Homo sapiens: one gene and its partner. The protein of the gene in region 1 purifies or fractionates together with the protein of each later gene. This does not show direct contact. Each region holds a gene or a part of one and is shown on either strand. Other genes may lie near its edges.

Region 1 (3,500 bases):
GAAGCCAGGTCGGCATGTGCATAGGAAGCTGCCCACGGTGTTGTGGCAGGAATGGTGACAGACTCGCCTCTCCAATGGCCTCCGACACTCGTTTACATCTGCGGGAGAGCCTCGCTGCGGACAGCTGCTTTGTTTGGGCTACGGAGCCCTTCTTCCGCCCATCCCTTAGCTCAAAACACTTGGGGAGTTTCTCTGCCATGTTCTTACAGGGTCCATGCCTGCCCCGAGGTGCGGGATGTGACTCAGACAGCTGGGAGCGGGGCTGAAATCTAGTGCTTGTCTTGTTAATAGGTTCACACATCGAGCAGGTATTTAATGCGAGTATCAGAGACTCAGCCCCAGCACTATGCAGCGGTAATTAATTGCTGCGTGGTAGGGGTAAGCCCCAATGAGAAGCTCATCTCCAAACCTTCCACCCTCCCGTTTTTCTTTCCGAAAAAAGTCTCAAAACTCACTGGGCTGCTGAAGGAAGGCTTCGGGACAAATACCTAACTCCGCTAGAACAAGGTCTTTTTTCAGGCCCATGGGACCCCACCTTAAACCCATGAGCCAAGCTCAAACCAAACATGCCAATCCCTTTCTGGAAATTTCTGCTAATGGGCTGAGAAAACAGGGTCTCCTTCTAAACCAGAGGAACCAAGACATAACGTGCTTTATTTACCAAGGGGAGCAAAGGCAGCCAAGAAAATGGGTGAGCAGAGAGGAATCCTTGGGGTGTATCTGGGAGAGGAGCGGAAGAGAAACATAACAGGATGAAAGTGGCAAATGGCCAGGAAAAGTCCAAGACAGGGTCTTCATGCAGAGCCACACCAACCCCAGGGACAGGCAGGCTCTGAGCCAAAGGCTCAAGCCCCTTCAAGCTCCAGAGGACCAGAAAGTCTAATTGTTAACCTTCCCGGGTCCCTGGGCTCCCTGTCCATCCTCCTGATTGGCAGCCTAAGTGTGCAGACCACAGGGTCCTCCCCGCCTTACCTACACAGGAGTGCCGGTTGCCATGAAGGTGGAAGCCAGTTCGACAGGAACACTTGTAGCTGCCAATGCTGTTTTTACATCTCTGCTGACAGGGAGTCCCTAGGCATTCGTCAGTGTCTGGCAGGAAAAGGGACAAGACTGGGGTTCATTTCCCCAACAGAACCTTGGAAATATATGGTCCCCTCTTCCTCCCTCATCTCCATCTCCTATACACACAGGGCTGTGGGGAACCACCTTAGCTGCCCCTCTTCTGCACTGCCCACATCCAGTCCTAAATACTCTCTGGACCAGCCCACGTCTCTCATCCTCACTGCTACCCCTTAGCCCGGCCACATTCATCTCTAGTCTGGAGAATAGCCAGAGCCTCCAGTGTGTCTATCTCTACCTAGGTTCCTTCAAGCCATCCTCTGCACAGCCTCCAGGATGTTCTGACCAAAGGGCATTTCTAATCAGGGCCCTTCTGCTCAAAACCTCTCCGCTGCTCCCACAGGCCACAGACCTCATCTTAGGGTAAGACAGCAATGCCGCCCCATAGCTCACGATGCCTTTGAACACAGTCCTGGTTGCCTTGCCCACCTCCTTCCTTGCCCCTGACCTTCACTCTGGCTTAAATTCTTTTTTGTTGTTGTTGTTGTTTTTTGAGACAGAGTTTTGCTCTTTTTGCCCAGGCTGGAGTACAATGGCGCGATCTCAGCTCACTGCGGTCTCCATCTCCTGGGTTCAAGCAGTTCTCCTGCCTCAGCCTCCCAAGTAGTTGGGATTACAGGCATGCACCACCATGCCTGGGTAATTCTGTATTTTTAGTAGAGATGGGGTTTCACCATGTTGGTCAGGCTGGTCTCAAACTCCTGACCTCAGGCGATCCACCTGCCTTGGCCTCCATTACAGGCGTGAGCCACTGCACCTGGCCACTGGCTTAAATTCTTGCCATCTTCCAAATGCACCACGCTCTTTTGGTGCTCCACTTTTGCCCATGTTCTCTGTCTGCCTCGAATGCCTTTCCCTCTTGTCTGGCTGGAAAACTCCTACTCATACTTCAAAACTCAGCTTCAGTGGAACCTCCTCTGTAAAAGTTCCCTAGTGCTGTTTGAAATTGTGAAAAACTGGAAATAATCTCCATGTTCATCAATAAGAGAAGAGTTAGTAAACTATGAAATATTTGCACTGCAGAGTCAGCAGTTAAAAGGAACAAGGCAAGTCTATTTACCCTGATGTGGAAACATCTTCAAGACCAACGTTGGGCAGGGGTAAGGGGAACAAGCAAAGGAATGACTAGGTTCAAATCCCAACTCTGGCTGGGTGCAGTGGCTCATGCCTGGAATCCCAGCCCTTTGGGGGCCAAAGCGGGAAGGATAGCTTAAGGCCAGGAATTTGAGACCAGCCTGGGCAACACAGCAAGACCTCATCTCTACAAAAAAAAAACAAAGAAAGAAAGAAGAAAAAAACCTTAGCTCTAATGGGATCTTAAGCAAGTAACAATTTCCTTAAGCCTCAGTGTTCCTTTCAATAAAATGGAGATAGATAATACCAACTTCACTGGGTAATTGTGAGGGCGAAAGGAGAAAATGCGTGTAAAGTGCTTAGCCCAGGACCCAGGACCTGAGAGTTCAGCAACTATCCTATCTCTGTAAGTGCCCATGTACGTACGTACACATCATGGGGAGGGGCAAGGAGGGCACACAGCAGACCAATGCCTGAGTGCTATGGACTAAACTCTGTCCCCTCAAAAATCGTGTTGAAGCCCTAACCGCCAATGTAATGGCATTTGGAAGATATGCAGGTAAGATAAGTAGATAAGAAGATAATTAGGGTTACATGAGGTCATGAGGGTGTGCCCTCTTGATGGGATTAGTGTCCTTTTAAGAAGAGACATGAGAGGCCTAGCTGGGTGGCTCACGCCTGTAATCCCAGCACTTCAGGAGGCCAAGGCGGGCAGATCATTTGAGGTCAGGAGTTCAAGACCAGCCTGGCCAACATGGTGAAACCTCATCTCTACTAAAAATACAAAAATTAGCCAGTCGTGGTGGCGCACACCTGTAACCCTAGCTACTTGGGAGGGTTGGAGGATCGCTTGAACCCAGGAGGCGGAGGTTGCAGTGAACTGAGATTGCAACAATGCACTCCTGGGCAACAGAGGGAGTGTCCTCTGTCCTCCTCCATGTCAAAAAAAAAAAAGAAGAAGAAGAGATACCAGAGAGCTCTCTCTCCAAGTGAGGACACAGCAAGAAGACTGCTTTCTGAAAGCCAGGAAGAGCCCTCACCAGAAACTGAATTAGCCAGTGCCTTAATCTTGGACTTTGCAGCCTCCAGAACTATGAGAATCAATGTCAGTGGTAGAAGCCCCCAGCCTGTGGAATTTTATCATGGCCGCCCAAGCAGACTAAGACGCGCAGGCTATTCTCCAGGGAGAGCAGAGGGCAGCAGTGGGAAAGAGGGCCTGGGCTAGCACCATGGCTTTTAAATTTTTTCTCATAATTTATGAAAATGTCAAACATAAAGAAAATAATAATGTAAGATTCAGGGGGAGG
Region 2 (2,231 bases), on another chromosome or scaffold:
ACACATACGGGCGAGCGGCCCTACGCCTGCGCCAACTGCGGCCGCCGCTTCTCGCAGAGCTCGCACTTGCTCACCCACATGAAGACGCACCGCGGAGCCACCGCAGCGCCGGGCTCGGGTTCGGCCCCAGCCCCCGCGCCCAAGCCCGAGGCGGCCGCCAAGGGGCCGTCCAGTGCCGGCCCCGGTGAGCGCGGCAGCGCCCTGCTGGAGTTCGCGGGCGGCACAAGCTTCGGCTCCGAGCACCAGGCCGCGTTCGCCGGGCCCTCGGGCGCCTACCGGGAGGGCGTCCTGTGAGGGGCCCGGGGCCGACAGCAGCGCAGCCTGCAGGGCCACCGGCCCCTCCCTTGGACGGCCGGCCCCCCGCTCCTCGGGCCCCGGGAGGCTGAGGGTCCCAGTCCTGGGTGCGGTGCCTTCCCTCAGCCCTCGCCCTGCGGCCCCGGGTCTCATGCCCGCCGGGTCCGTGTGCTCAGCCGGAGACGTGGGGGAGCTCTGGGGAGAAGAGCAGCGCGGAGGCAGCGAGGCCAGGACGTCACCCCCACGGAGACTGCGATATCCCCTGGGTGGGCCCGGGCTGTGAAGCAGGGCGGTAGTTGGCGGGCGATGCTATTTATTTCACTCGGATTCCGACTTGGGTGGTCTGGGGAGCAAGGGATTTGTGTGTTTGCAACCGGGTGTGGCGGCGAGGGAGGGGCCCGGCCACCCAGGTGGGCCAGCGGGATGCCTGGGAGGCCGGTGGGTTTGGCTGACCACTTCTTCCCATTCCTCAGTGAGAGACTTGGGCCCTCCCGGTCATCCGAGTCTGTCCCGAAGGTTTAACTGCGCGCGGCGAGGGGAGGCCTTGTAGGTTTCCAAAGGGCGGAGCTCCAGTGGGAAAACTTGAAACTTGTCGTCTGCGGATATTTATTTCCACTTCTTGTATGGCCTGAAGAATCTAGGAGGAGAAAAAGCCAGATACCAAACTTACGGCCAGGCAGACGGGTCGCGGGTGTTGACAGGGTCCTGAGGGAGTTTGAAGCCTTATTCTCGAGCCGCCTCCTCTTCTCTACCCACACTTGCACCGAGGTCACCCCGGCACCCTCCGCACCGGTTCGGTTTTGGTCTCTGCTTGTCCTCTCAGTCCTTGGTACTTTCGTCTCCCTCAGCCGGAGGTGGCAAACTCAGACATCTACGGGCGCCCGAGGCCCTCGCAGCCCTGAGCCCCAGCTTTCACTTCCCTGGGCTGCCCCTCTCCGGGAGCAGGCAGACGCCCCGTTCTCGGAGCCCAGCGCTCACTTAGAGCGACTGAGGTTGGTCGAAGGATCTTTCCCCACATCCCATAATCAGGGCCCTAGGACACTCGCAGGTCCCTTTAACTCTGCTTCTGTCATTACACTAGAACAAGTAGTGTTTCTGTTTAGAGTCCCATTTCACAAATTGGTTAGTGGAGGCACCCGTGGCCTGGCAGCTTGCACAGTGGCTGTCCACCTCGGGGGGGTGTGGACCTGAGCCGTGGCTCAGTGACAAACCAGGCACCCAACTATGCAAGGCCCCTGCCTGGTGGGCATCCTACCCTCTGGACTGGGCCCATGGAAGCCACTGGGCGGGCAGCTGGGGTGTAGTTCATGTGAAGCCCCATTCCCCTCACGCTTTTGGGGCCACTGTGAATGGGGCCAGGAAACGGATTTTTGGTGCAGCTGCATTCCCTAATAGACCTAGTTCCCTCCACGTTAGTGTAGACATGGCCTTGGGGGCTGAGCGCAGCAGCCAGGCTGCCAGGGCTGGGGGCGGGTAGGAGGCACGGTAGTTGGTGGGTGGGAAGAGGGCCTGGGTGGTGGCGGTCAGTTAGCCTGGCTGGGTGAGGTTGGTGAGGTTGCGGGGCGGGGTGGTGAGGAGAGCAGGGGTCCCAGGGAGGCATTGGGGTGCTGGGTAATGACCTCGGCCCTGGGTTTCTCCTCTCCCTGCGGGACAGGAGCCTCAGAAAGGGCCAAGGGCAAGGTGGGCTTGGGGGGCTCTGGGAATCTCAGCTCTAGCCCTGTATGGCCAGGATCTGCTGTCTCCGTCCCTCCTGGGCCCCAGCAGCTGTCCTGCAGCTGTCAGCAGGAGGGCCTGGCTTTAATAAAGAGTGGACAAACTGAACTTCTGACTGGACTCCATGCTGTCGCCACTCCTGGGAACCCGTCGGGGAGGCTCTGCGCGGCCTCAGGTCCAACTTGTTTCTGCAAACATTTTTTAAAAGATTTTCTCTTTTAAGA

The links.
Region 2: the proteins of VWCE (region 1) and ZNF316 purify together in Homo sapiens (affinity purification with mass spectrometry; 2 studies listed by BioGRID and IntAct, with this or other methods). This does not show direct contact.

What each region holds. Positions count from the first base shown.
Region 1 is NC_000011.10:61,281,817-61,285,316, forward strand, and holds part of VWCE (von Willebrand factor C and EGF domain-containing protein precursor), read right to left. Parts: intron 1,090-3,500; coding exon 973-1,089; intron 721-972; exon of another isoform or gene 662-720; intron 99-661; coding exon 1-98.
Region 2 is NC_000007.14:6,654,318-6,656,548, forward strand, and holds part of ZNF316 (zinc finger protein 316), read left to right. Parts: coding exon 1-294; 3' UTR 295-2,231. UniProt on the Homo sapiens protein: May be involved in transcriptional regulation.